Regions from separate parts of the Homo sapiens genome. Here region 2 is linked to region 1. The links come from fine-mapping of genetic effects on gene expression. Tissue or cell type: whole blood. Region 1 holds a variant in brackets; the other region holds the start of a gene. All regions are shown on one strand. Distances are from middle to middle.

Evidence for each region. PIP is the estimated chance that this variant, and not a neighbour inherited with it, causes the effect. A credible set is the group of variants that fine-mapping cannot tell apart.
Region 2: it holds the start of MFSD2B, and the variant in region 1 is the best candidate, but not a certain one, in a credible set for the expression of MFSD2B in whole blood (TOPMed, PIP 0.56).

What each region holds. Positions count from the first base shown.
Region 1 is chr2:23,763,351-23,779,100 of GRCh38, forward strand. ATAD2B (ATPase family AAA domain containing 2B) reads right to left here. Exons shown (of 28, transcript NM_017552.4): 23 at 2,156-2,278. Among named protein-coding and RNA genes, the nearest start is that of ATAD2B, 160 kb to the right of the region's middle. The variant T/C (reference allele first, on the strand shown) is at 7,146.
Region 2 is chr2:24,000,990-24,016,739 of GRCh38, forward strand. It overlaps MFSD2B (MFSD2 lysolipid transporter B, sphingolipid), which reads left to right and starts at 9,096. Exons shown (of 14, transcript NM_001346880.2): 1 at 9,096-9,203; 2 at 12,296-12,421; 3 at 15,167-15,291. The coding sequence starts at 9,108. It overlaps UBXN2A (UBX domain protein 2A), which reads left to right. Exons shown (of 7, transcript NM_181713.4): 7 at 1-3,920. RefSeq lists enhancers at 15,082-15,637, 15,638-15,750.

The DNA.
Region 1 (15,750 bases):
TTACTGAGATACAATTTATATAACATAAAAATCACCTGTTTTAAGTGTACAATAAATAGTTTTTAGTAGATGTATAGAATTGTAAAATCACCACAGCAATCCAATTTTGGATAACTGTCCCAGGCAATGACTACTCCACTTTTTGTCTCTATAGACTTGCCTTTTCTGGACATTTTATATAAAAGAAATCATACAATATGTAGTCTTCTGGGTCTGGCTATTTTTACTTAGCATAATGTTTTGGGGTTTTTTTTGTTGAGACAACATCTTGCTCTGTCACCCAGGGTGGACTGCAGTGGCATGAACATGGCTCACTGCAGCCTCAACCTTCTGGGCTCAAGCAATCCTCCCAACTCGGCCTTCCAAATGGCTGGGATCACAAGTGTACACCACCACGCCTAGCTAATATTTCTCACTTTTTTGTAGAGATGGTATCTTGCCATGTTGCCCAGGCTGGTCTCAAACTCCTGGGCTCAAGCGATCCTCCAACCTCTGCCACCCAAAATGCTGGGATTACAGGCGTGAGCCACCATGTTCAGCCAGCATGTTTTTGAAGTTCGTCCATGTTGTACTGTGTAACAGTACTTTGTTCCCTTTTATTACTAAGTAGTATGCGCTTGTATGGGTATCCTATGTTTTCTTTACCAATTCACCAGCTGACAGACATCTGGGTTGTTTCCAGTTTGTGGTTATTATAAACAATGCTCCTATGAACATACAAATGTTTATGTGGACATATATTTTCATTTTTCTTGGGTAGATTCCTAAGAGTAGAATCACTGGGTCATACAGTAAATCCATGTTTAATTTTTTAGAAATTGCCAAACCATTTTCAAATGGGCTCCAACAGCTTTTAAACTGATCTTTCATCTTCCTACCCTGGCACATTGAAACCATGTTACTTCTTCCCGCCAAGGCAATTCGACCAATTCATTTCACTGCTTAAAATCCTTCAATGATTTCTATTGCCTATGGCTATCAAACTTTAGTGTACATAAAAACTCTTGGATAGTTTGTTCAAATAAAGATTTCTTGGCCTTAATATTCTCAGAGAATCTAATTCATAGGTCTAAGCTGAAGTGGGTAATAGGCAGACATTTTTGAAAACACTGATCTACAAGATAAATCACAAGCTCCTTAGCATGGCATTGATTTACTCAAATATTTACCGAAAACCTGTTTTATACCAGATGGGGTTCTAGGGACTGGAGCAGAGATATAAACAAGACATTCAAAGTGCTGATATCCTAAATAAGGAGGACACGATCAAAAAACAAATAATATAATGCCAAATGCTACCAAAGCCTCTATCAGATTAGGTGGTCAGGGAAGAGCTCTCTAAAAAGGTAGAAGAAAAGTTTCTTCATAATTTTTGTGTCCTAGACCCCGCACCTCTTGAGCCCTATTTCCAGCATTCTGTATTTCTTTAGCAATACCAGTTTAACACACCTCTGTGCCTTTACATATGCTATTGTTTTCTCTGTGTGCAATACACCTCCTCCTCCTCTATCACTGCCTCCCTAGTCCATTAGAGAGAACACTTCTATATTCACTCCTTACTCTGATCAAAATGCTGGGTTCCCTACTGGGAGGTCTCATCTCTGTGCTCTGAACATGCTTCAACCAGTGCATACACCACACTGTACTTGATTGGTTTTACATTTCTCTCTCTCCTACTAAAATGTGAGTTCCTCAAGGACAAGATTATAAACTGAATTGACAAACCACAATTGCTAATTCTGTGTTTCTAATAACAAAATTGCATATAAATTTCACTAGGGTGGGAAAAACAGTATACCTAAACATGTTTTTAAAGTACCAGAAAGTAAACTGATGAAAAATAAAACCTTTTCATATCTAATATCTAAATCCATTTAGAAATCAATTCTTAAAAAAGATATACTCCTACAAAACAAATTTCAATAAGAAACACTTTATTTCTGTAATACACACTATCACACTAAAACTTTCACAGTAGGTAAAGTTGTAAAATATCTTTGAGAATTTACATAACACATTAGTATCAGAAATTAAATAAATACATTAAATACATTACTTTCATAATACCAGCAATCCTAAAGAAACAGCGTTCAAGTACTCTTGGCCTGAACAGAGCACACTAGGCTTCAGTACCAAGTTTATTTCTACAACTTACCTCTTTTTATTCTTGCTTCCTTAATTTCCTCACAAAGTTTATTAAATTCTGGATCTAATTCAGCTGCAATGATAGCATGTGCAGTGTCCTTCAGGGTACAAGCCCTGTGCCTAATTATTTTATCTGTTAAAAAAGTTGGTATATATTTATTATAGAAACAAATAAAATAACATTAACAAAGGACATCTTAAAAAGTAAAAGAATACAAACAAAATTATAAAAAGCATTGCTAGGTGAGAAAAAGTTTATTTAAAGTATGGGTAAAAAAATAAATATACTAAGCTACTCAGTCAAGTTAGTAATTCTCTGAAAATTATACTTTAAGAACCTCAAAGGACTAAACCTATTACCATTTCTGAAGCAGTCTGGAGAATTACAAGAAAAAGATACATGGTTTCAAATTTCTGAAAACAGAAATATGTGATTTTCAGTAAAAATTTAAAAAGTATTTAGAGGATATTCACCAAATGCCCAGCCCCAGAGTTGTCAGAGATTAATATTAGGAATTCAAAAAAATCTTAAATTTCTCCTAAGTTGACATTGGTCAAAACTATGCTAAAGAATACAATATATTTTAAAGGTGACTTATTTTTTTTTAAATGTGACAAAAACAGAGAAATACAGAAAGACTTTCTAAGCTAAAGGGCACAAGATGGTGTATACATTGTAGGTAGATCCAGGAGAGAAGCATAAACATGGTTCCAGGTAAACTATGCCTAAAAATGGTACTAAAAGAGGAGCCTCTGCTTCACACTAATCCAGAAGTTCCCATTCATAAACAATACAATATAAACAGTGCCCCCTAGATCTGTGCAACTCAGAAATATGAAAAGGCAAGTAATATATCAAGGTAACTAATATTCTAACAGTATCAAGAGCAAGAATCCAGAGTTGCAAAACAACATTTGCTTTTTCCTCTCTAGTAAGGGCAAACAGTATAGACAAAGTTACAGAGACACTTTATAACTTTTCTGATTTGAAAGTTATTATGGCTCATTGTGGTAATCTTACAAAACCAAACATGCACCACTCAAAGGCACCACTGATATTTACTTCCAACACATTTTCTCTAAACATTCACTCAACAAATGTTGTCGACTGCACCAGGGAAAGCTGGATGGTGGCCACCCACAGCAGTGAACAAAACATACATGATATCAACTTTCAAGGACTTTTTCAGACCACTACAGGAACAAATCATCTCTCATACATCCAAATTAACACCTCCTCCCTCCAAAAAAGAAAAAACCCAAAAGCAAAACACCCTGAAAAACAGCTATGAAGAAAACCTACAGGGTACTGGTGTGGGTTCCAATTTAGATTGAGCAAGTCAGGAAGAAGACTCTCTGAAGAACAGGCATTTAAACTGACACTTGAAGCACAGACTGGAGTAGCTACTGAAAGAGTAAGGGGGGAAAAAAAAAAAAACAACTAGTGCAGGTTCAGAAAATACCATGTGAGAAAATCCTGCTGTAAAGAGTTTGGAGATTTCAAGAAACTGAAATGCAGCCAGTGTAGTGTTATGAGTTCTAAATTTCTTTTCAAAGAATCAATATGTCAGTATGTTCAATTCTTTGCCTTCTACTTTTAAACTTAACTTCCTCGTAAAGCAACCTTTTTCGATTACCTGCTCTACCCTGACTCATTCCAATTACCTGCTCCACCCTGACTCATTCCGATTACCTACTCCACCCTAACTCATTCCTATTACCTGCTCTGTCATAACCATTTTTCCCGCCAAAACACTTACCTCGTCATTCTCTTTAAATTAGCCAATCGGAATTAGTTTAGCCTGTGTGGTCTAACCCTAGCCAACAGGAGAAGGACACAGCAGTGGGGGGCCACATGCATCAGGGATAATAAACCCTTCCCCTCCCTTGTCCAAGTGGGCGCCCACCATTACTCCATCTGTAAGGGTGCACCCTTCTATAGAAAAACTTGCCTTGCTGAGAATTAAAAAGAAAATTTTATATTCAAGTGCTTTTTGAGGTACTGAAACTATTTATAACAGTAGTCAGAACATAATAAGCAAGAGGCAAAGAGAAACTGATCATATTGAAAGGATTTCAGATTGTATCCTAAGAGCAATGAAAATCATTGAAAAGATCTGCTGTGGTTGTTTTCTGATCACTGGATTGAGGGGAGTCAAGAATAACACCAGGGAGCATAGTCACTAGGCTTTATTTTAGTGAGAGAGGATGATGACTTGAACTGGGGTAATGGTGGTGGTGGTGGTGAAAGACAAGATTACAGATTTGAAATGTGCTCTCAATGACACAATTTGGTGATAAAGTAGATAAGAGGGTAACATAAATATCAAAGATGATTTCCTAGCTTCTTGCATAAAAAATGGGGAGACGGACATACTATTTATAAAGATGCAAAAACAAACAAAAAACAAACAAAAAAAAAAACAGAATAGAGAGGAAAGGAGGAAAAGAAGTTAGAGAGTAATCTCAAAGAGTTCAGCTTCAGGCATTTCAGTTTGGAGATGCCTAAAAAATATCCCAATGGAGATACCATGTAAGCACATGAATATGTGTCTCAACAATTCTCTTTATGAACAAAAACCACAATGATTCTGTAATCTGCATTATTAACATATTGTACTTCCCTAAGTTTAAAAATAGATCTATTGAAGCATAATAGACATATAATAAGTTGCTCATACTTAAAGTATACAATTTGATACATTTTGAGGTAAGTACACATCCATAACATTACCACAACAATAAAGATAATCAATGGGCCAGGGGAAGTGATCGTGCCCGTAGTCAAAGCACTTTGGGAGGGAAAGGTAGTAGGACTGCTTGAGCCCAGGAGTTTAAGACCAGCCTGGGCAACATGGCGAGCCACCGTGTCTCCACTCTGACTCATTCCCATTACCTGCTCCACCCTGTACAAAAAGTACAAAAATTAGGCAAGCATGGTGGTGCATGCCTGTGGTCCCAACTACTTGAGAAGCTGAAGCAGCAGGATCGCTTGAGCCCAAGGGAGTTGAGGCTGCAGTGAGCCATGTTCACACCACTGCACTCCAGCCTGAGCAACAAAGCAAGATCCTGTCTCCAAAAAAAAAAAAAGACAATGAGCATATCTATCATCACCAAAAGTTTCTTGTGACCCTTGATTTTCCTCCCTTCACCCTTCCTCACAGCCCTCTATTCCCAAGCAATGAAGGATCTGCTTTCTCTTGCTATAGATCAGTTTATATTTTCTAGAATTATATATACGAGTGGAATCACAAAGAATATTTTTAATCAGGATTCTTTCACTCAGCATAATTATTTAAGCATAAAAATAATTATTGGTCCCTATTTTTGCATGTATCTGTACTTCGTTATTTGTTAGTGCTGAATACTAATCCATTATATGGGTATAACACAATTTGTTTATCCATTCACATGCTGGTGGACATTAGTGATAATTCTGAGTTTTGGCTATTATAAACAAAGTCACTATAAACATTGATGAACAAACCTTTGTATGGAAATATACACGTTAATTTTCCTTGGGTTAATACTAAGGGGTGGAATGGCTAGGTCAAATGATAGGTACGGTTCTTCAGCAACCGCAGGGGATTGGTTCTAGGACCCCATCTCCCCTTGGATATCAAATCTCCAGATGCTTATATCTCTCATATAAAATGAGGTAGTGGCCGAGCACGGGGGCTCACGCCTGTAATCCCAGCACTTTGGGAGGCCAAGGTGGGTGGATCACGAGGTCAGGAGTTCAAGACCAGCCTGACCAACATGGTGAAACCCCATCTCTAATAAAAACACAAAAAAATTAGCCGGGCGTGGAGGCAGGCGCCTGTAATCCCAGCTACTCAGGAGGCTGAGGCAGAGAATTGCTTGAACCCAGGAGGCAGAGGTTGCAGTGAGCCGAGACAGCGCCACTGCACTCCAGCCTGGGTGACAGAGGAAGACAGCGTCTCTTTATTTATTTATAAATAAATAAATAAAATGAGGTAGTACAGTCAGCCCTTTGTATCCACAGGTTTCAAAGCACACATATGGAGGGATGACTATAATACATATGTTAAACATTCTAAGAAACTTCTAGACTGTTTTCCAAGTCAGCTGTTTCATTTTACATTCCTACCACAGTGCATCATAGTTCCTGTTACTCTACATCCTTGATTACATTTGATATGGTCTTTTCAGTTTTAGACGATTATTACAAGTGTTTAATGGTGTCTCACTGTGGGTTTTTTTTTTTTTTTTTTTTTGAGACAGGGTCTCATTCTGTCGCCCAGGCTGGAGTGCAGTGGCATAATCTGGGCTCACTGCATCCTCTGCCTCCTGAGTAGCTGGGATTACAGGTGTGTGCCACCCCACCCAGCTGATTTTTGTATATTTAGTAGAGACAGGGATTCACCATGTTGGCCAGGCTGGTCTCCAACTCCTGACCTCAGGTGATCCACCCACCTTGGCCTCCCAAAGTGCTAGGATTACAGGCGTGAGCAACTGTACCCGGCCTCACTGTGGTCTTAATTTGCATTTCACTAAAGATTAATGAGGTTGACCGGACACAGTAGCTCACATCTGTAATCCCAGCACTTTGGAAGGCCGAGGCGGGCGGGTAACCTGAGGTCAGGAGTTCGAGACCAGCCTGGCCAAAATGGTGAAACCCCATCTCTACTAAAAATACAAAAAAAAAAAATAGCTGGGCATGGTGGTGTGTGCCTACAATCTCAGCTACTCGGGAGGCTGAGGCAGGAGAATTGCTTAAACCCAGGAGGCGGAGGTTGCAATGAGCTGAGATCATGCCACTGCACTCCAGCCTAGGTGACAGAGCAACTCTGTCTCCAAAAAATAAATAAACAAATAAATAAATAAATAAAAAGATTAATGAGGATGAGTATCTTTTCATGTGTGTATTTGTCTTCTGTATATCTTATTTGGTAAAGTGTCTTCAGCTCTTATGTCCATTATTTAAATTGGGTTATTATTAAATTCTGAGACTTAATATTCTGGCTATAGGTTTTAAG[T/C]TCTTGTATACAGGTATGTGATCCATTGTGAGTCAACTTCTGCATACAAAGTCTTTTTTTGCATGCTGATATCCAATTGTTCCAACACTGTCTATTGAAATTTAATCTACTTTCTTCATTGAACTGACTTTACATCTTTGTCAAAAAGCAATTGACCCTCTATGTGTGCATCTATTTCAGGACTCTATCCTATTCCATTGACCTATTTGTCAAACTTCATGCCAACATACACTGTCTAGATTACTGTAACTTTTTAAGTCTTACAATAAAGTAGTATTAAGTCTTCCAGCTGTTTTTATTTTCCAAAGTTGTTTTGACTCTAGGTCCTTTTCATCCTCATATGAATTTTAGAATAAGCTTGTCAATTTCTATCAAATGCCTGCTGGAATTCTGATAGGATGGTGTTGAACCTGTGGTTCAATCTGGAGAGAAATTACATTTTCATAATGTTGAGTCTTCCAATCCATAAGCCATGACATATATCTCCATTTATTTGGGTCTTCTTTATCTCACTAATATTTTATAGTTTTCAATGTATAAGTCTTACATGCCTTTTGTCAGATTTATCTATATTTCATGTTATTTTTTGATGTTATTTCAATTTCCTGTTTGTTGCTAGTATATAGAAAAACAAGTGTTTTACATGCTGATCCTGTCTCCTGCAACCCTAACTTCACTTACATGTTCTAATAACTTCTTTAAATATTCCATAGGATTTTCTATGTAGACATCATACGTCTACAAACAACAACAGGTTTACTTCTTTCTTTCTGGAAGTAGGGATGCCTTTATTTCTTTTTCTTACCTTACTGCATTGGCTGAAAGCTCCAGTTTAATGTTGATAGAAGTGGTAAGAGCAGACATCCTGGTCATGTTTCTGATCTTAAGGAGAAAGTACTTACTCTTTCATCACTAGTATGATGAGAAATGTAGGCTTTTTGTAGACATCATTTATCACTGAACTGAAAAGCGGGGATAGGGGGAATAATTTTGTTCCAGTAAAAAAATTTGACTTACAAAAACAGGCTGTCAGCTTGATGATAGTCTGCTGACCCCTGGTTTAGAGCATCTACTTTTAATGTGATGTATGTGATTATTGATATGGTTGCTATTTATTTTCTACTTGGCCTATATGTTTTTTGTTCCCTTTTTCCTCTTTTTCTCACTTCTCTTGGAATTACTGTATACCTTTTTATGATTCCATTTTATCTCCTTGTTGGTTTATTAGCTCTAACTCTATTGCGGCCCCTGTGTGAACTTTAAGGAATATTCCCTCTCCTTCTCTGGCCTCAGATAGTTTTCTCACACATATGCACTAACCAGTACTTAGTTAAACACTAGGGTAGGACCTCCTGGAGATAGCCAGAGTGTTCTCTCTGTGCAGCTTTCTTCTTTCTGGTAATCTGCCCTGCAAACCCAAACCACTGTGGCCTCTTCAGATTCCAGGTCTGGCTCCCCAGTTCAGAGGACCTCCAGAATATGCCTGGGCTGCTCCTCCTGGGGCTGGTATCTGGAAATTGTCTCCAGGCAACCACACTACTCCTCTTATTTGTTTCTATCTTTTGGGAATCACTGTCCTGTGTTGCCTGGTGTCCAATGCCTTCCAAACAGTTTTTCTTTAAATATATTTTGTTCATTTTTTTTTTCATTGTGTCATGTGAGGGGGTAAATAAATCGAGTCCCTTTTACTTCATCTTGGCCAGAAGAAGAAAAGAAGAAGTCTCCTGGTGTCTTTTAAACACTCTTTGAAAACCAAACTTTAATAGTTGTGCAACAATCCAAAGTAGGATGTGCCTTAATTTTTCAAAAGTATTGTTCTCTTTTTGGAAGCTTTAAGTTGCTTCTAATTTTAGCTACTATAAATAAAAAACTACAATGAACATCAACATCCTTAGAAGTAGCTATACTTTCAAGTTGACAATACAATGTTTGTAGCCTATGCAATACCACAGCTTTCCACCACTGGCTTTCTACCTCGGCTTGAATGAAGAGAAACTAAAAAAAAAGGTAAGATTAAATCTAAAGGTATGGATCTGGCATATTGTCTCTAAAATAACTCAATGATTGGTCTTTCTGCTTTTTATAAAGTGTATCTTCTATCCCAACACTACCCTAAATTAAGCAAGAAAAAAGAATAAATGAAGAAAAAAAATCCATAAAAATTTCCCACTAGTATGGAAGACAAGGAATATATTCTTTTAAAAAAATCTGCATTTGAGAGGGAACACTGCTTTTTTGGGGGGATGGGGGTGGGGGACAAGGTCTCACTCTGTCACCCAAGCTAGAGTGCAGTGGCATGATCATGCCTTATAGCAGCGTCAACCTCCTGGCCTCAAACAGTCCTCTCTGCCTCAGTGCCCCGAGCAGCTATTAATAGGACCACAAGCATGCGCCACCACGCCTGGCTAATTTTTGTACTTTTTGTAGAGATGGTGTCTTGCCATGCCCAGGTTTCACACTGGCCTCACATTCCTGGGCTCAAGCGATCTGCCTACCTCGGTCTCCCAAAGTGCTGGGATTACAGGTGTGGGCCACTGTGCCGGGCCAAGGCATTGCTTTTTCATGTGCCTATCATTATAATTCTTTTCAATCATTGTTTAGAAGATTGTCTAAGATTATACATAGCATATAATCACAAACTTAGAAGAATATTCAAAGTAGAAGGGATGTCTATGATAATCCTAGGTTCTTAATCTTTTTGACCTGGATTCATATAAGAACAGAACATGGTTGGGCATGTTGGCTCACATCTGTAATCTCAACACTTTGGGAGACTGAGGCAGGAGGATTGCTTGAGGCCAGGAGTTTCAGACAAGCCTGAGCAACATAGGGAGACCCCATCTCTGCAAAAAATTAAAAAGTTAGACAGGCTTGGTGGCTCATGTGGTCCCGGCTATTCAGGAGACTGAAGTGGGAAGATTACTTGAGCCAGGGAGGTCGATGTCTCAAGTCAGCTATGATGGCTACAGTAAGCCATGATCGCACCACTGCATTCCAGACTAGGCAACAGAGTGAGACCCCCTCTTGCGGGAGGGAAAAAAAGAATAGAATAAAAGTTGAAAACTGCACATGAATATAATTTTGTTTGTGGATTCAGAGACTCACTCATCACTTAAAACTCTAGGTTTAAAATTGTGTGGGAATAGAAACTATATATTTATGAGTTTTCACTCTGTCTCATACTTTAAGATTTTAAGACTGTCCAAATCCATGTAATTTCCAAGTTACATAAGCACAGCAAAAAAACCCCATATATTGGCTTTGAAGTCAAGACAGCTCTCAATCCATTCAGTTGTGCCATATAACATCTGTGGGTTTGCACACAGGTAATTATATAACCTCTCTGAGCCCCCATCTCCTCATCTATAAAATAAAGATATTACCACTTACATTTGTCTTCAGCAAAAAGTACTGGCTACTTAGGACATATAGATGAGTATCTATAAAATTAATAGAAGCAGTACTTTAATGAATGTAACAGCAATTTCACTGTGTTGATGTTTCTTTTGTAATTGGTAAACTTTTACTTTTAGTTCATTATGAAGAAAAAAAAATCCCAGAAGTATATTAGCTGAGATTTTGTTCAACAAAATTATTAAGAGTAACCATATTTTTAAGAAAAGCTCATTTTTATGGTATGATTTTTCATCCCAAATAATTTCATAAATAAGAAATTTGGCTGGGCATGGTGGTTCACACCTGTAATCTCAACACTTTGGAAGGATGCAGCAAGAGGATCACTTGAAGAGTTTGAGACCAGCATAGTCAACCTAGCAAGATCCCATCTCTACAAAAAATTTTAAAATTAACCAGGCATGGTTGTAAGTCCTGTAGCTGTAGTCCTAGCTACTCGGGAGGCTGAGGTGGGAGGATCACTGGTGCCCAGGAGGTCAAGGCTGCAGTGAGCCATGATCATGCCACTGTACTCAGGTCCAGGCAACAGCATGAGACCTTGTCTCCAAAGAAAACAAAAAACAGAAAAACATTTTAACTATATTTACTGGTTCAGGTCATATTTATATATTATTAGTATTTATGCATATTTCTACAGAATGTTACCATGTCTCCATTTTATAATTTCTACTTAATCTGAGATTCCTTGAGTTAGTATCTAAAAATAGAGGCTAGGCACAGTGGCTCACACCTGTAATCCCAACAGTTTGGGAGGCTGAGGCGGGTGGATCACCTGAGGACAGGAGTTCAAGACCAGCCTGACCAACATGGTGAAACCCCGTCTCTACTAAAAATACAAAAATTAGCCGGACATGGTGGCGCATGCCTATAATCCCAGCTACTCAGGAGGCTGAGGCAGGAGAATCGCTTGAACCCGGGAGGCGGGGATTGCAGTGAGCTGAGATCGTGCCATTGTGCTCCAGCCTGGGCAACAAGAGCAAAACCCTGTCTGAAAATAAATAAGTAAATAAAATAAAAATAGAATAATAAATAAAATTTACTCATCGGCCACATTTATTAAGAACATGCTTTACACAAGATGCCTATACAGATCCTGTTCTCAATCAGCTTCGAGTCTAAAATAAAGGATGAGGATAAGTAAACAAATAACTATGGGCAAAAAAGTAATAAATGTCTCAGAAAAGTTACATTATGAGATTCAGAGATGAAGGGGTACTTACAACTGGAAGGAAATCAGAAAAATCTTTCATGAACTTAGCATTTTAGTATTCCCTGAAGGGTAGGTAAATTTTATTTTATTTTTTTATGTTTTATTTTTTTTTTTGAGACGTTGTCTTGCTCTGTCTCCAGGCTGGCGTGCAGTGGCATGATCTCAGCTCACTGCACTTCCACCTCCTAGGTTCAAGCGATTCTCCTGCCTCAGCCTCCCAAGTAGCTGGGAATACAGGCGCACACCACCATGCCCAGCTAATTTTTGTATTTTTAGTAGAGATGGGGTTTCACCATGTTAGCCAGGATGGTCTCGATCTCTTGCCCTCGTGATCCGCCCGCCTTGGCCTCTCAAAGTGCTAGGATTACAGGCGTGAGCCACCGTGCCCAGCCGGGTAGGTGAAATTTTAAAACGATATGTGATTTTAAAAGCTACATGCTATTAAAAAGTACATTTTCTTGTATGTTGCTTATATCTCAATAAAACTGATTTAAAAAGAAAAACATGTAAATACTCCCAGTAGAGGCGATACATTTGACAAGGGTCCTGAAACAGTAAGACTGGGACTTACACTGGGCAAGAACTGGGACCCATATTTCCTAGAAAAGGGGCCCTCCTGGGCTCCTCTCTCTTCTCATTCTACACACTGTCTATGAAATCTCATTCACTCCTCTACGATGATGACTCCCAACCATATCTCCTGCCCACTTCTTTCAACCTCCAGAACCACATATACAACTAGTAATCCAGCACTTTGGGAAGCCAAGGCAGGCAGATCACAAGGTCAAGAGATCGAGACCATCCTGGCCAACATGGTGAAACCCCATCTCTATTAAAAATACAAAAATTAGCTGGGTGTGATGGTACACGCCTGTAATCCCAGCTACTGGGGAGGCTGAGGCAGGAGAATCGCATGAACCCGAGAGACGGAGGTTGCAGTGAGCCGAGATCACGCCACTGTACTCCAGCCTGGCAACAGAGCAAGACTCCGTCTCAAAAATAAATAAATAAATAAATAAAGTCTGCATTTTGTCTGGGTTTACCAAATATGACTCATACTAACATGTCCCAAATTGAATTTGACATCCTGCCCATAAATCTGTTCCTCCATTGGTTTACCTTCCCAGATTCCTCTAACCAGACCAAAACCTCAGGGATCATTCTAGGTTTTTGTCCACCATATTTAAATGGTTGGTCACTAAGACCTCTATATTTAATCCCTGCAGCCACTGCAATTAAATCTTAACTGATGTTCCAACCTCCATCTTACAACTGCCTTGACCTCTACCCCAAATTTGATACTAAGAGGTCAAGGCTGTGTCTTAACCATCTGTGTATCTCTAGCCTTAAACAGGATTTATACACAGAGAATATTTAACAAAAAGATGCTCAATAAACGTTGAGTCAGTGAGTAGAGAAGCAAATTAGTTTCCCACTACTCCTCCACAGAGGCACTCTATTCTCCAGACTTGTTTTTTTCATACCTCTGTTTCCTCAGCCTAGAGTCAATGCCCTTCCCAATCTTGCTAATCTCCAGGTAGTGTCTTCTCCTCTGTGCTCCACTAACCAGGTAACGTATTTCTAATAAGACCTTATGACACTGTCTTATAATCATCTGCTGGCACCTTAAGACATTATTCATGATTGCCACCTCTATGGTATCCCTTTATCTTAATAATATTTGTTATTATAATCACCAATAATTTGATAAGTGTATTTATCATCTCTAAAAATTGATGACTTTCTATATAGTAGGGATTGTGTTTCATATAACTGTTACAGGCTGAAATGCATCTCCTCTAAATTTATATGTGGAAGGCTTAACTCCCAGTACCTTAAAATATGACTGTATTTGGAGACAAGGCCTTTAAAAAGATAATTAAAATGAGGACATATGGGTGGGTTCTAATCCAATCTGACTGATGTCCTTACAAGGAGAGAAAATTTGGACACACCAAGAAACACCAAGGGCACACAAGCATAGGGAAAAGGCCATGTGAGGACACAGAGAGAAGGAGGCCACCATCTGCAAGCCAAGAAAAGAGGCCTCAGGAGAAACCAACCTGCTGACACTTTTATTTTGAATTGATAACCTCTAGAACTGTGAGAAAATTAATTTCTGTTACATTTTGTTATGGTAGCACTAGTAAACTAATACAATTACATATAGAATAATGCCTGCCACATAGTAGTTATCCGGTAGGCATTATGGATCTATCATAATACTGATATATCTATATCTATATCTATATCTATATCTATATCTATATCTTGGTCTCAAAAGGCAAGAATTGTCAGAGTCATCTTTGTAGTCTAGGCACCCAGCTCAGTAATTAGCAGATAGTACTCATAAACACTAACAGAAAAATGAGTGAGTTTGGTTGAAACAACTCATGAAATACAACTGTGGCAGATAAATTTAGAAATGTATTAAGAGCAAAACACAGAGGGCTCCAAAAGTTTGGGTGAATCTGGGGGCTTTAATCCTATACAATTTGAACAACATAGAAGATTTTGAGACAACTAAAACATTAGGGCGAAAATTTCAGCAAAACTAGTCAAATGATGGTATATAGCATATGAATAGGCCTGGGGGATATAGGAGGGGTGAACTGCAAGACCGAGAATGGGGATGAGCCAAACATAATATATCATGTATCTATACTGTAGTAATTAGGGCCAAATATCTGATACTGGTCACATTTAGAACACAGGTCAATTTCTTCTTGTTCCCATCATTTAATTTCTGTTCCCATCATCCTCAAGGGAGACAATCTGGGTCAACACTTAGGCAACGTGTATATCTTTCAAAATGTTGGCTTTTGTCTTCTATGTATATGTTAGTTTTTTCCCCAAATGGCCAAGTGTTCTGTAAAAGAGAACACTGTAAGCTTCCAAATACTCATGGGAACTTGTAAACGTAATACAACATTCATGTAATTTCCACTTGCTACACAACACACCCTGAGGATGTTTTTCTGGAACATAACAAGTGGTTCTGTTGCTAAGAAAAAAAAAAGAGGTTGCTTGATGAAAGATATGAAAAAAATCTAAACACAGCCAAAATAATGCATTTGAACAATATCACTTTTTGTATCAGAACAAGTGAAGAAAGCAGAGCCATATTCTTTCATTGTGGAACTGCATTTTGTAGTAAAATATTATTATGCACCAGAAACCATTACTTCTTCCTTAAAATATTAATATCAATGTGGTTATAATTAATTACTGAGAAGGGAAAAATATGGATTGATCTTCTCAACTGGCTTTTTCTAAGCACTTAAATTCATTTTCACTACCAGCCCTTAGATTTGTTTCAAAATAGAATTACATTTAAAGTATGGTCCAGGGAATGTAATAAGCACAAAGTATAAAGGGTCATTCTAGAGCAAATATGCAGGTACCCACTAAGAAACCAACTTATAAAAAAATTAAAGCACAATTTAAATAATGATCATAAGAATACAAACACAAACAGCTAACCTTTATGGAACTCTTATCATGTCCCAGCTACTCTGCTAAAGGCTTAAGATATTTAGGATGAACCATATGAAAATGGCAATTTCATAAGGTTCAACCTAATACACTTGCTCATTTAATTCTTACAACCATCCCATTTAAGAATGTTGTTATCATCCCCATTTTACAGATGAGGAAACTAAAATTCAGAAGGCTTAATTTGATCAAAGTTAAAGAGCTAGGAAATAGGAGAAATGGGACTAAAGCCTAGGTCTGAATCCAAAGCCCATATTCTCATTACATATTACACAATAACAGCAGTCTCTGCGTCTTGAAAACCAGGCTGAAGGTATAGGCACACAAGCACTCTCACACACTGCTCAAAACCACTACATATACAGTTGTACGGGTTGTACCCTCACATAGGACCCCAGCAAGGGAAGGGAGTGAAATGGGGCCGACATCCAGCCCATGCTTTACTATCCATCCTGTTACAGGATGGCATCCAACTGAAGAAGGTTC
Region 2 (15,750 bases), 240 kb after region 1:
GTTTCTTTTTCGTTTGTTTGAGATGGAGTTTCGCTCTTGTTGCCCAGGCTGGAGTGCAGTGGCGCAATCTCAGCTCACCACAACCTCCACCTCCCGGGTTCAAGAGATTCTCCTGCTCAGCCTCCCAAGTAGCTGGGATTACAGGCATGCGCCACCATGCTTGGCTAATTTTGCATTTTTAGTAGACACGGGATTTCACCATGTTGGTCAGGCTGGTCTCGAACTCCCGACCTCAGGGGATCTGCCTGCCTAGGCCTCCTGAAGTGCTGGGATTACAAGTGTGAACCACCGTGCCCAGCTGGTTTTCTGTTTCATACATCAGAGTCAACTTGTGAATACATTTAAAGATTATTTCATTTTGATATCACGAAGAAAAACAGGCTTTATATCTCAGACTTTAACTAAATCCAGTTAGACCTCAATTTTTCACTGTCAGATTAAATCCCCATACCTGAAAATAAGTTTAACATTTTTTTTTGCAAATGATCTATTGAATCAGATTTAAAATGAAGCATGCATTGAGTGTGCCAAGGAACTAAGTGGTCCATAGCAGCAGTAATGTTCATAGGGTGCGAGATGCCTGCTATGAAACAGCAACTCTCAAACATTTTTATCTCAAGACCATTTGTTTATGTGAGCTATATATATTATTATATTAAATATTAAATTTTTAAAATATTTATTTATGGGCCAGGCACGGTGGCTTACGCCTGTAATCCCAGCACTTTGGGAGGCTGAGGCAGGCGGATCACAAGGTCAAGTGATTGAGACCATCCTGTCCAACATGGTGAATCCCCGTCTCTACTAAAAATACAAAAAAAATTAGCTGGGTGTGGTGGCATGCGCCTGTAGTCCCAGCTACGTGGGAGGCTGAGGGAGGAGAATGGCTTGAACCCGGGAGGTGGAGGTTTCAGTGAGCCGAGATTGCGCCCCTGCACTCCAGCCTGGTGACGGAGCGAGACTCTTTCTCAAAAAAAAAAAATTATTCATTTAAAAATAACTTCTGGCTGGACATGGTGTCTCACGCCTGTAATCCTAGCACTTTGGGAGGCCAAGACAGGTGGATCACTTGAGCCCAGGAGTTTGAGACCAGCCTGGGCAACAAGGCAAAACTCTATCTATAAAAATTACAAAAATTAGTGCAGTAGCTCACACCTGTAATCCCAGCACTTTGGGACACTAAAGCGGGCAGATCACCTGAGGTCAGGAGTTCGAGACCAGCCTGGTCAATGTGGTGAAACCATGTCTGTACTAAAAATACAAAAATTAGCCTGGTGTGGTGGCACATGCCTGTAATCTCAGCTACTAGGGAGGCTGAGGGAGGAGAATTGCTTGAACTCAGGAGGCAGAGGTTGCAGTGAGCCGAGATTGCGCCACTGCACTCTAGCTTAGGCAACAGAGTAAGACCCTGCCGTAATAATAATAACTTTTTTTTTTTTGAGATAGAGTTTTGCTCTTTCCCCCAGACTAGAGTGCAATGGCGCGATCTTGGCTCACTGCAACTTGTCCCCCCGGGTTCAAGCGATTCTTCTGCCACAGCCTCCCGAGTAGCTGGGATTATAGGCGCCCACTACCACGCCTGGCTAATTTTTGTATTTTTAGTAGAGACGGGGTTTCGCCATGTTGGCCTGGCTGGCCTCTAACTCGTAACCTCAGGTGATCCGCCCGCCTTGGCCTCCCAAAGTGCTAGGATTATAGGCGTGAGCCACTGTGCCCAGCCAATAATAACTTATAAAACATGAAACGATTTAGTGAGAAAAGTGGCCGGTTTTTTGGGGGGAATTACTTTCTGTCATAAAGAAGATAGATGGGTTCTCATGTCTTCTACATTCAGTCTGTTGTGCAGTCACATATCATGTAGACTCTGGAAAACACCTCTGTATACTGGTGAAAGAATGAAAAGAAGCAAATAATGCCTTAGTATGATTATGAAAAACGTTTTGACTTCACAGTGCCCTGAATGGGTCTTGGGAATCTCCAGGGATCCCTCAGGCACACTTTGAGAACCAATCTATATAAAGTGATGGTTCACAATGATTCTGAAGCCTTAGTTTCAGAATCATTTGGGGCAGCTTTTCAAAAATGCCATTCCTGCCACCTACCACAAAGATTCTGATTCACTGTATCTGTGATGGGTCTCAGATCTCTGCATTTTTAATCTCACGTGATTCTTAAGTATGTGGTGGAAGTACCTTTCTTCAGGAAATTCTGTCCTAAGCTTTTACCCTGAGAAAATAAAACCTGCATGCTTTCACCATGGACGGTGGGAGACTCCACTGAAACACATCTGCTAGACCACTAAGTTTATCCTTGTCACCCAGTTTGCTCTTGGAAAGAGTCTGTTCCCTTTTGTCACTGAACCAATCATGACATAAACTTGTGCTTTACCTCCTATAGCACAGCCGAGACAAGGCTGGAACATTTAATTAAGGTTTTTACTAAGGACTCAGGAATAACAACAGGGAAATATCTATGTAACTAGATGACCTGACATAAAATCTATCTTCTGATTGCAGTCTATTGTGAGAATGCTGCTTTTCCTAGCTCCCAGCCTTCCATGGGGCAGAAGGCTCTTTTAATTAGGAAGAGAGGGAGGACAAAGGAGAGCCTTTTCTTTTGTCCATTACTCTTAGAAATGAACAGGTACATAATAGAAAATAAATAATTATTGTTGGTAATGTTTACACAGCAGTGTTAGAGCCTCTCTGTAGTGAAACAAAAATAATGTTCTTACCAAAAAAAAAAAAAAAAAAAAGAGGCAATGATAAAATCAATGAGCTTATCTTTCTGATATAGAAAATAACAGGATGACAGTTAATACATGTTCAGGAATCTAAGAAAATGTTTCATATAGGCCTATCATGTAGCATTTTTATTTGCATAATTATAGTCAACATATGATTCTCCATGTAGGGGTCTCTCATTGAGAATGTTTCCTGTGTACCTATAGAAAAGCCTCTTTGGTAGATTTTCCGGTTTATAATTATTTAACCAGAAGATACATGGGAGGTTCTTTTGTATGTACCTGTAGAATACATCCCAGTAAGGGTCCTATGGAGAAAGACCTGTTGTCATCAATAACCTTCATTATTCTAACTGTGAAACGTTCATTAATGCGAATAATATCCTCAAAGATTTTCTACAATGAGAATCATCCAGTAAAGCTTTTTAACTGAGAATTTAAAAGTTGTAAAATTGTTAGTTAAATGTGTATAATTATCAAAAGAGGTTGACTTTGGAAAACAAACAATTTGCTAAGGGAAGGAAAACTTGAAAATAATCACCTTAGATGGGGCATACAATTTGACCTAAGCAATTGTTTCAAAACTGTCTTCAGTTTCTTGAAAATAATTGTTAGGGCTGATATATAGAAATACATATCTAGGCCAGGCACGGTGACTCATGCCTGCAATCCCAGCACTTTGGGAGGCTGAGGTGGATGGATCACGAGGTCAAGAGATCGAGACCATCCTGGTCAACATGGGGAAACCCCGTCTATACTAAAAATACAAAAATTAGCTGGGTGTAGTGGTGTGCGCCTGTAGTCCCAGCTACTCAGGAGGCTGAGGCAGGAGAATCACCTGAGCCCCGGAGGCAGAGGTTGCAGTGAGCCGAGATCGTGCCACTGCACTCCAGCCTGGGCAACAGAGCGAGACTCCGTCTCAAAAAAAAGAAAAAAAGAAATACATATCTAATGTTACAGATTGTGGTTTATTGGTTAATTACTATGCATTTTTTTCAGTTTAAAAAATAATCTTATTTTATATACTTCTCTCGGTATAATTTTTCATGACATTTCAGCATGTTGATAATATGTGTGCATCTATTTCAGTGCCTTAAAGTATTTTGAGAGCAATCTTTTGCTGACAGTTGAAGAACTGTTAATGAAATACTGTTCATTAAAAGGATCTGTGAAATCATTTACCCTTGTTATAAAATAGTTATATGCAAATACACTTGTCATTTTATTTGGCAAAGTCATTCAGTTTGATAATCAACAAACATTTATTAGGTGCTTTTGCTTTAACCAACATTACTTTCATTTAATACTCAGAAATGTAAAGATGTGCTATTTTTGAATACTAACTCAATGATATGTTTAATTTTTCATTTATTCTTTGTGTTATCAGCTGAACTAGCATGAAGACTCTTTAGTAGGGTTTACTCCTTTGTTCTTTTCCTAAGTACAAACCATTTTATGAAAAAATTGCTCATTGCACTAAACCTTCAGATGGAAATGGCTTATTCAGTAGACCAGTATTTGGCTTTGTCATTTGTTTTAATGTATTTTTTGCACAGATAATTTATATTCATTATAGAAAACTATAATATGCAGATATGCTAAAATGATCCTTAAATCACCTATTATTCTGCCTTTCACATATAACCACTACTGGTCCTAGTGGTGCATGCCTGTTGTCCCAGCTATTCAGGAGACTGAGGCAGGAGGCTCGCTTGAGCCCAGAAGTTCTGGGGTATAGTGTGCTCTGCCAGTCGGTCAGGTGTCTGCACTAAGTTTGGCATCAATTTGGTGATCTCACTGGAACGGGGGACTACCAGGTTGCCCATTGGAAAAGGAGCAAGAACGAATGCTGATCAGTAGTGGTAGTACACCTGTGAATAGTTTAAAAAGTGAAAAAAAAAAAAGCCAGGCGCAGTGGCTCATGCCTGTAATCCCAGCAGTTTGTGAGGCCGAGGTGGGCTGATCACAAGATCAGGAATTCCAGACCAGCCTAGCCAACATGGTAAAACCCCGTCTCTATTAAAAATACAAAAATTAGCCAGGCATGGTGGCACGCGCCTGTAATCCCAGCTACTCGGGAGGCTGAGGCAGGAGAATCGCTTGAACCCAGGAGGCAGAGGTTGCAGTGAGCCGAGATCATGTGGCTGCACTCCAGCCTGAGCGACAGAGCAAGATTCTGTCTTGAAAAAAAGAAAAAGAAAAAAGTAAAAAATAAAAATTAGAAATTAAAAACTACTAGTAACATTTTGATGTGCATCCTTTCAGATATTTTTTAGTATATCAGCTTTTAGTCTTGTTTTAATTAAAAGGCAGCTGCCTTTGTTATTTAATCCTACTTTATTGAAATCTAATTTGTCTTTTGCATTAAAAATTACATTATGAACTTACCATCACTTTAAATAGAATACTGACTGTTAGGGAAATGACTTTTATTATAATTACATTTTTTGCTGTCCAAAAGAGTTATTGTTTAATTTTTTTTTTTTTTTTGAGATGGAGTTTCACTCTTGTTGCCCAGGCTGGAGTGCAATGGTGCGATCTCAGCTCACTGCAACCTCCACCTCCCAGGTTCAAGCGATTCTCCTGCCTCAGCCTCCCAAGTAGCTGGGATTACAGGAGCCCGCCACCACGCTTGACTAATTTTATGTTTTTTTAGTAGAGACGGGGTTTCGCCATGTTGGTCAGGCTGGTCTTGAACTCCTGACCTCAGGTGATCCACCCACCTCAGCTTCCCAAAGTGCTGGGATTACAGGTGTAAGCCACTGTGCCCAGTCATTTTTTAATTTTTAAAATTGTTTTTACCTGCTGCCTTTCAAACTTAAAATTGCAGTAGTATAAACAACAAAGTACAAGTGTTGAGAATGCAATATTTCCAAACCTTTTAAAAATGCGTATCAGTAGGATGTACTTGAAAGTAGATTGATTATCTAGCTGAACACAGTGGCTCACGCCTGTAATCCCAACACTTAGGGAGGCAGAGGCAGGAATAAAGCTTGAGCCCAAGAGTTCGAGACCAGTCGGAGAAACATAGCAAGATCCTATTCTCCACAGAAAGGAAAAAAAAAAAAAACCCACAAATTGTAAAAGTAGATTATCTAAAGAAACTTTGGCTTTAGTTTATATTTAATTTCCAAGGAATTAAATATTTAGCACATGCATTATCTAATCTATCCTTGTATTTGCAATCAGGGAAACAAAATGTACCCATTTTGTAGATTAAGGAATTAAGACATATAAAATGGAATGACTTGCTCTAAACTGGGTAGTGTATCCTTTAGGATTAGATTTAGCTGTGACAGAAAATCCAGAATAATAGTTGCTTACAAGGTCAAATTTTATTTCCCATGCAAAAGTCCAGAGGGAAGCAGTTCAGGGCTGGTAGATCAACCTCATAAAATCATCAGATTCCTGTACTGTTGATCTGCCAATCTCATCACTCTGTAGACTTGGGGTCTCAGGGTAGCTGCACTAGCACCAGCCGACACATTTGTATTTCAGCCAATAGGAAGAAGCAGATATCTTTCCTTTTAAACAGCTTTATTGAGATGTAATTCACATGCTGTGCAATTCACCCATTTAAAGTATACAATTCAGGCTAGGCCGATGGCTCACTGTAATCCCAGCACTTTGGGAGGCCGAGGTGGATCACCTGAGGATCAGGAGTTCAAGACCAGCCTGGCCAACATGGTGAAAGCACATCTCTACTACAAATACAAAAATTAGCCGGGAGTGGTGGCACATGCCTGTAATCCCAGCTACTCGGGAGGCTGAAACAGGAGAATCACTTGAACCCGGGAGGTGGGGGTTGCAGTGAGCCGAGATCGTGCCCCGGCATTCCAGCCTGGGCAACAAGACTCTGTCTCAAAAAAATAAATAAATAAAAATAAAGTATACAATTCAATGGTTTTTAGTGTATTTATAGGGTTGTGCAACCATCACAATTTAACTTTAGAAAATGTTTGTCCATTCTAAAACCTCACATGCCTTAGCAGTAACTCCCTAGCCCAGTCCCAAGCAACTACAAATGTACATTCTGTCACTCTCTATTTGCCTATTCTAGACATTTGACATAAATGGAATAATACAATTTGTAGTCTTGTGACTGGCTTCTTTTACTTAGCATACTGTCATCAAGGTTCATCTGTGTTGTAGCATGCATTGGTCCTTCATTCCTTTTTCTTGCCCAACAGTAGTCCATTGTATGGATATACCACATTATATTTATTCATTCATAACCTGATGGACATTGGCTTGTGTCCTCTTTGGCATATATATATACACACACACATTATATATATATGTATATATATATGAATGCTGCTAATGAACATTCATGTTCAAGATTTTATGTGAACATGTTTTCATTTCTGTAGGGTGTATACACCTAAGAGTGGAATTGCGGGTCATGTGGTAATTCCACGTTTTACTTTGAGAAACTGCCAAACTTTTCCAAAGGACTGTCACTAGTTTCCATTCCCACTAGCAGTGTATAGGGGTTCTGATTTCTCCACATCCTCCCCAATACTTGTCTCATTTTAATTACAGCCACCCTGTGGATATGAAATGGTGTCTCACTGTAGTTTCGATTTGTATTTCCATGTGCTTACTGTTCATTTGTATATCTTTAGAGAAATATCCAAATTCTTTGCCCATTTTAGAATTGGATTGTCTTTTAATTGTTGAGTTGTGAAAGTTGATTCCAATACAAATCCCTTTTCTCCCATTCTGTGGGTTGTCTTTATACCCACTTGTTGGAATCGTTTACAGCACAAAGGTTTTCATTTTGAAAACTTTTGTAGTTCATCCAGCTTGTGCTTTTGGCGTCCTAAGAAACAATTGCCTGGCCCAATATGATGAAGAGTTGCTTCTGGGTTTTTTGTGTTTGGTTGGTTTTGTTTTTGTTTTTGTTTTTGAGACAGAGTCTCCCTCTGTCACCCAGGCTGGAATGCAGTGGCACGATCTTGGCTCACTGCAATCTCCGCCTCCCGGGTTCAAGCGATTCTCCTGCCTCAGCCTGCCGAGTAGCTGGGATTACAGGCATGAGCCACCGTGCCTGTCCCTTGCTCCTGTTTTTTCATAAGTTTTACATTCTAGGTCTATGATGCATTTTTAGTTAATGTGTACCCCTGTTACTGGTGGAAGGTATCTGAGTCACGTGGCACCAAAATATGTCAGCAGGAGTGAATCTATATGGGTCTGCAGCAACCTCAGTTCCTGCCTCCTCAGAAGAAAGAATTCCACTGAGGGGCATAAGGCAGAAGGAGAGACTGAGGCAAGTTTTAGAGCAGGAATAAAAGTTTATTAAAAAGCTCTACAGCAGAAATGGAAGGAAGGAAAGTACACTTGGAAGAGGGCCAAGCGGGTGACCTGAAAAAGAAGCGCACAGTTTGACCTTTTGACCTGGGGTCTTATGCATTGGCATACTTCTGGGGTCTTGCATCCCTTCTCCCCTGATTCTTCCCTTGGGAGGCCTGCCTGCATGGGCAGTGGTCTGCCAGCACTTGGGAGGGGAGTGTGCACACTGTGTATACTGGAGTTGTACCCATGCTCACTGGAGGCGTTCTTCCCTTACCAGTCCGGTGTCCTTCGAGGGTCACATGTCAGTTAAACTCCGCAATTTGTGTAAGCCCACTTGCCCAGCTCCTGAGATCTTACCGAGAAGCTGATCACCAGTTTCAGGTTTTCTCTATCTATTGGGAGACTGCCTTTCCCTGGCCCCGCTGGATCAATGATCATTTTAGAGGGAGCATAACAACCGCCTGACTGTCGCCTGATGGTTGCCTGACGTACCTGGTTGGAAGCGTGGCCCTCTCCTGCCCTTTTCGAGGCTGACTAGCTACCTGCTGTCACCCCCCTTCCCTTTTAAGGACTTTTCTGGAATGTTGGCCTGTGCCACCTGCTTTTATTCGCTGGCCAGAACTTAGTTACTGGCCATCCCCGTGGTCTGTATAGGAGACTCGACAATGTATATTTCAGGCGTTGGGCATCATGTGTAGCCGGCGGAATGCCTGTTCAGCCATGGTCCAGCCTGAACGAGCGGGCCTCTTGCTTCATTTTGCAGGGGAGCTGCTGCTTGCCCGCGGTCACCCCAGCGGTCTGGCGGAGCCCTTAGCGCGCAGGGCCGCCGTCTGCGGGCGCTCACGCCCCCGGGGATCCACCCCAAGGAGAACGGTCCTGAGGGCCTGCCGGGCCTTTCCCCCCGCGGATTTTGGTTCTTCGCTGTTTCCCTTTGGGGTGCCCTTCGCGGTTTCTGCGTTTCCCCCGCGTTGCCAGCAGCCACTCGCGCCGCGCCCCTAGCCCAGAACCGCCCCTCCCAAGGGCGATAACCCCGAGGGCAACGGCCGCGGGCGGCGCTGCGGTGGCAATGGCGGCGCCCCCTGCACCAGCCGCCAAGGGGTCCCCGCAGCCGGAGCCGCACGCCCCAGAGCCCGGCCCGGGGAGCGCCAAGCGAGGGCGAGAGGTGAGCGGGGCGGCGGGGACCGGGAAGGGGCTGCGTCCTCGGGGAGCTCCAGGGCGTCGCCTCGCAGCCCCTTTTCCAGCTGGGGGCAGCCCGGAGGGGCTCGGCCCAAACCTGCCAGCTCAGGGGCTGCCCTCGCGGGGTTACACGGCTGGGAGCGGGGAGGCTGGTAGGTGCCGGCGCCGGAAAGAGACTAGGACGGGAAGCCTAGCCCTAGCCAAGGAAGTAACTTGGGGATGCGTGGTCATTGCTGTCCTGATTCCCGGCTTAGGGGTCTTGTCCGTGCCACCGCAGGTCCTCCCGGGGTCCCCGAGCTCTGGGCAGGCAGGGCTTTCTGAAGCGCCTGGGGAGGCTGCGTCCTTCCCGACCTCAGGCAGCTGCTGTGGCCTCGGCCTCCCTCCCAGACCCTGGCCTCGCCCAGGCACCAGGCTCCCCTTGGAGGCAGCCTCAGGGAAGGTCCTGGCCATGGGCTCCGACAAGAAGGGAGGAGGGCAGGTGGGAGCGGCGGGGTCTTCGGGGCCCCTTGTCCCTTGCCCGATGCCGCCGGGCCGTGCTGGCCAGTGGGGCTGTGCTGGACGGAGCAAGGGGCCTGGGGCTTCCTGGGCCTCACTGAACGCGCCTGCTCCCTGCTCGTGCCCAGGGCATTCTGTGGCCTCCCCTGACCACCTCAGCCCCCAGCCTGTTCAGGGCTTCCTACGAGGCACCTGGGAGCACAGGATTGCATCCCACAAGAAAGTGAGGTGAGATGAAGGGGCTCTCCGGGGACTCTCACTTCCCAGGGAAACTTAGAAATTCAGGGTGAGATTAACAGCAAGAGGGAAACACTCGCATTGCTGATGAAGTTCCGGCGTGGAATCCTCTTACGACTCTCCGAGGGGTGGCAGCCCCGGTCACTCCAAGGAGACCGAGGTGCCCTGCCCTGGGTCACGCAGCTAGAGATAGCAGGGCTGCGCCCCTCGCCCGGAGCCGCCCCTCCCAAGGGGCTTCTCCTTGTACAGCTCACTGTACAGCTGTACCGGGCTTTTATGACTTTCGGTAAAACTGTCATCCTCAAGACGGCAAGATGGGATCATATCCCTGGCTTCACTTGGAAGTTCTTTCTAAAGTTCTAAAAACTTGCTAGGCCTGTTTTGGGGGATACAAGAGTCCCCATTAGGGGGAGAGGGGGACTGTCACGTTGAATTCTGCCTGTTCTTAAAGTTTTCTGGAAGCTGAAATGATGTTCACACAAATGTCAGAAAAGAATCATCCTGCCCCCAGTGTGGTTTTCCCCTGTGGGTAGGAAGAGTGTGCAAAGTGTGATAAACCCTTATCTGGGGAGACCTTCCCTTCACAAGAGCCTGCTGGGGTGTCCTGCAAGATGTGGAAATGGGTGAAGCCATGTCATCTCCACTCCCTCCAGCCCCCAGCAAACGATGAGAAAAGAGCCCAGCTTCTTCCAAAGAAACAGCACTTTACACAGGGTCTTCATGGCCATTTATTGCTTCAACGGATATATACTAAGCACCTACTGTATACCAAGCTTTGTTCTAGGTACTGGAAACACCATGATAAATAAAAGGTGGAGTTCATGCTCTCAGAGAGCTTACATTCCTGTAGGGAGAGGCAGGAACTAAATGAAAATATAGCAGGCGGTAAGTACAACTGAGAGAGGTGAGAGGTTAGGGAATGCCTCTTGGAGGAGGTGACATTTAAGCTGGTGACATCAAACCAGAATGACAAGGAGTCACCTTCCAGGCAGAGGAATGGGAAGGGCAAAGGCCCTGAGGCAGCAACAGACTTGATGATTTTGAGGAATAGGAAGGAGCCCGGCGTGGCTGAAGGAGAGCTATTTGAGGTGAGGTGGGTAGGGGGCCGACTGGGTGGACTCCTTAGCCATGATCAGGACTTGGAGTTTTATTCAAACTGCAATGGTATTGACTGAATACCATGGATCTGGAAACAAACAAACAAACAAACAAAACACACACACACACACACACACACACACAAAAACAGACAAAAAAACCCTGCAATAGCAAGCCATTGGAGAGTTTTAATCAGAGAGGAGATGGGATCTGATTATTTATTTATTTATTTATGACTGAGTCTCTGTCACCCAGGCTGGAGTGCAGTGGTGTGATATTTGCTCACTGCAACCTCTGCCTCCCTGGTTCAAGCAATTCTCTTGCCTCAGCCTCCTGAGTAGCTGGGATTACAGGCGGCCACTATGCCTGGCTAATTTTTGTGTTTCTAGTAGAGATGGGGTTTTGCCATGTTGGGCAGGCTGGTCTTCAACTCCTGGGCTCAAGCAATCCACCTACCTCGGCCTCCCAAAGTGCTGGGTTTATAGGGATGAGCCACTGTGCGATTTATGTTATTACAAGAGCACTGGCTGCTGGGTGGAGTGGATTGTAGGGAGCAAGGGCAGACACAGAAGCCACTTAGGAGGCATTCACTGATAGACAAGAACTGGAAAGAAGAATAGATGACTCCTAAGTTTGTGGCCTGAGCCACTGAGGGGACCAGCGGTGCCATTTGCTAGGAGCTGGATTAGACAATGGAATGGCCATCAGGAGCTGTATGTAGACCATGCTAAGCTGAGACGCCTGCCAGGCATCCCTGGAGGGCTGTGGGTAGGCAGGCTATGGGTAAATGAGCTATCGCCTCATTTACTCATCGAAGAAACAACTTTGTGAAGTTGGCAGGGATGTTGCATTTGACAGATGAGGAAAACAGGCTTAGAGAGATGATGTGATTTATTCAAGGTCACATAGAGGGGTAGGTGACAAAGGCAGGCTCAAGCCCAGGTCTCCTGACCTGCAGCTTACACGGCCGTGCTGACTCAGTAAATGATGGCGGCTTCAGCAGGAAGCCCAGGGTAAGATGTCCAGAAGAACTTCCCCCCTGGAAATGTTTAGAGGTCAGGGTTTAGGATCTTTTTTCTCTTCGTCTCACTTCCTCTTAGGATGACATGGGGGCAAAATGGGGCTGAGAGGTTGCTGGAAAAGCCCTGAAGACATCACAGAGACTCAGGATGTTTACTGAAGTCATGGGGTGTGGGGACCTGTTTTGTGTCTGTTGGGAGAAGGGCTTAGTTCCTGTGTCTCCTCCAGGACAGCAGAGCCGGTCGCCTCTCATTCTGTACAAAGGTGTGCTATGGCATTGGTGGGGTCCCCAACCAGATAGCCTCCAGCGCCACAGCCTTTTACCTGCAGCTTTTCCTGCTTGATATAGCACAGGTAAGTGTGGGCAGTAGCCCAGTCTCTGCTGGCATCTTCCTTGGGGTCTGGTCCTTCCACCCCCACCTCTGCTTCTGCTCCCACTATCCTTGTAGACAGCACTTCTGACACGAGCTCAACAAAAAGCCAGAAGCCAATGAGGGCAAGGTACTCAAGAATGTTTACTGCAGCCTGTTTGTAGTGGGAAAATGAGAAACAATGTAGATCCCCGACAATATAGAAGCAGTTGGCTAAGTAAGCTGTATCATAGCCACATAATAGACCAAGCCTGTCCAACCCGCGGCGGGACGGCTTTGAATGCGGCCCCACACAAATTTGTAAACTTTCTTAAAACAGTATGAATTTTTTTGTTTTTTTTTTTTTTTAGCTCATTAGCTATCATTAGTGTTAGTGTATTTTATGTGTTTATATGTGGCCCAAGACGATTCTTTTTTTTTTTTTTTTTTTGAGACAGAGTCTCACTCTGTTGCCCAGGCTGGAGTGCAGTGGTGTGATCTTGGGGCTCACTGCAACCTCTGCCTCCCAGGTTCAAGCGATTCTCATGCCTCAGCCTCCCGAGTAGCTGGGATCACAGGTGCACACCACCACACTCGGCTAATTTGTTGTTTGTTTTTTTTTTTGAGATGGAGTCTCGCTCTGTCACCCAGGCTGGAGTGCAATGGCATGATCTCGGCTCACTGCAACCTCTGCCTCCCGGGTTTAGCAATTCTCCTGCCTCAGCCTCCAGAGTAGCTGGGATTACAGGTGTGTGCCATCATGCCTGGCTAATTTTTTGTATTTTTAGTAGAGACAACAGTTTCACCATGCTGGCCAGGCTGGTCTTGAACTCCTGACCTCGTGATCCACCCACCTCAGCCTCCCAAAGTGCTGGGATTATAGACGTGGACCACCGCGCCCAGTCTACAGCTAATTTTTGTGTTTTTAGTAGAGACGGGGTTTCGCCATGTTGGCCAGGCTGGTCTCGAACTCCTGATCTCAGGTGTTCCATCCACCACAGCTTCCCAAAGTGCTGGGATTACAGGCGTGAGCCACCGTGCCTGGCCAAGACAATTCTTCTTCTTCCAGTGTGGCCCACAGAAGTCAACAGACTACACTAACATCACTATCAAATAGACTATCATGCAGCCATTCAAAATAATGATCTATACCAGTTGACTTAGAGTGATTTCCATGATGCTCTGGTGAAAAAGAAAAGTTAGTTTTAGAGAAGAGTATATAAAATGATCCCATTTTAACAAAACAAAGACAGGCTCCATATGTGTGTGTGTGGATGGATATGTATATATACATATGTATCTGTCCATGTTTAAAATGTGAGCATGGAGAAAATTCTAGAAGGATATACACCAACTCGTTAATGTTGGCTACCGGAGGGAATGATGGAGAATGGAGGGTAAGTAAAACCAAATTTTTAAAATGAGGTATCCAGCCGAGCATGGTGGCTCACAGCTGTAATCCCAGCACTTTGCGAGGCCGAGGAGGGAGGATCACTTGAGGTCAGGAGTTCAAGACCAGCTTGACCAATATGGTGAACCCCATTTCTACTAAATATACAAAAATTAGCCAGGCGTGGTGGCACACGCCTGTAGTCACAGCTACTCAGGAAGCTGAGGCAGGATAATTGCTTGAACCCAGGAGGTGGAGGTTGCAGTGAGCTAAGATTGCACCACCACATTCCAGCCTGGGCGACAGAGCAAGACTCCCTCTCAAAAACAAAACAAAAACCAACAACAAAAAAATGAGGTATCCAGCCGGGTATGGTGGCTCACACACCCAGCACTTTGGGAGGTCAAGGCGGGAGGACCGTCTAAGCTCAGGTGTTCAAGACCAGCCTGGGCAACATGGCAAAACTCCACCTCCACAAAAAAAAAAAAAATTTAAAAATACAAAAATTAGCTCGGTGTAGAGGAACGTGCCTGTGGTCTCAGCTACTTGGGAGGCTGAGGTGGGAGAATCACCTGAGCCCAAGAGGCAGTGGTTGCAGTGAGCCGAGATGGTGCCACTGCACTCCAGCCTGGGCAACAGAGCGAGGCCCTGTCTCAATTAAAAAATAAAATAAAATAATAAAATGAGGTATCCACGAATGTTTAAGATGACAGTCTGATATGATCCCATTTATATAAACTGATCAATCTCAAGCACACATGAAGAAGCCTATGAAAGGCTGATCATCCAAACGATTCTGGCAGTTGTCTTGGGATGCTGCGATTTCAGATGAGCTTTGCTTAGTATTTTCCTGCATAGTTTGAGTGTTTTTCTAATAAGTGTATTATTTACATAGTCAGAAAAAACAATGCATCCTTTCCATTGTGAAACACAGTGTCCACCTCTGTCAGCCCAGAGGCACCCTCCTTGCTCTGAGCCAGAATGTTTTTCTAATGAGTGTATTATTTACATAGTCAGAAAAACCAGTGAATCCTTTCCATTGTGAAACACAGTGTCCACCTCTGTCAGCCCAGAGGCACCCTCCTTGCTCTGAGCCAGCCCCAGATGAGGGCCCTGGAGTCCTCTCCGCAGTGGCTGACATGAGTACTAATGGGAGTGTGCAGGGCGGCAGCACTCAGCTCCCTCCCCTGGACTCAGCCCCGGGATCAGCATCCTGGGGAAGGCTGAGGAGCCCTTGACACTGTGGCTCTGCCCTCCGGTCCCGGTTCCCAGGCCTCCCTCTTGATGGCAAGCAGGCCTGGATGGGCTCTCTGCTGCTGCTGGGCCTCAGCTCTCTATCCCCTCCCCTGTCTGTTTCAGATCCCTGCCGCCCAGGTGTCACTTGTTCTGTTTGGGGGAAAAGTGTCTGGGGCGGCTGCTGACCCTGTGGCTGGGTTCTTCATCAACAGGAGCCAGAGGACAGGGTCTGGACGGCTCATGCCTTGGTGAGCAACCGCTCAGTCCTTAGGATCCAGGCACCTGGTCCTGGCCCTGAGGTCACTGTTTGTCACAGCCCTATTTCCTAGCAGAAACCCACTGGGTGGTTAGGAGACAAGACTGGATAATATCGCAGGTGCACTGGGGACTGACTGTGAGTGATAAGGAGTTCAGAGACATTCTTGGGGACTCTCCCTCCCCAGATGGCACGGGGCTGGATGAAGCCTCCAAGACTCCCAGGCCTGGCCTGGGGCACTGAGTGTGGGAAGGCTGGGCTGAAGGCCATGCGAGGCCTCACGGAGGAAGTACAGCTCAGTGTCCCAATGTCCACACAGGGAAGGGCACCAGCAGCGCTGAGAGTGCAGCTGGAGCTCCCACGAGGAGTGGCCGCCCATTCCCCACTGCCTCCATGACCCATCGGCCACTTCTCCCCTGCTCCTGGCTCCCACCCAGGGCGCCCCAGCCTA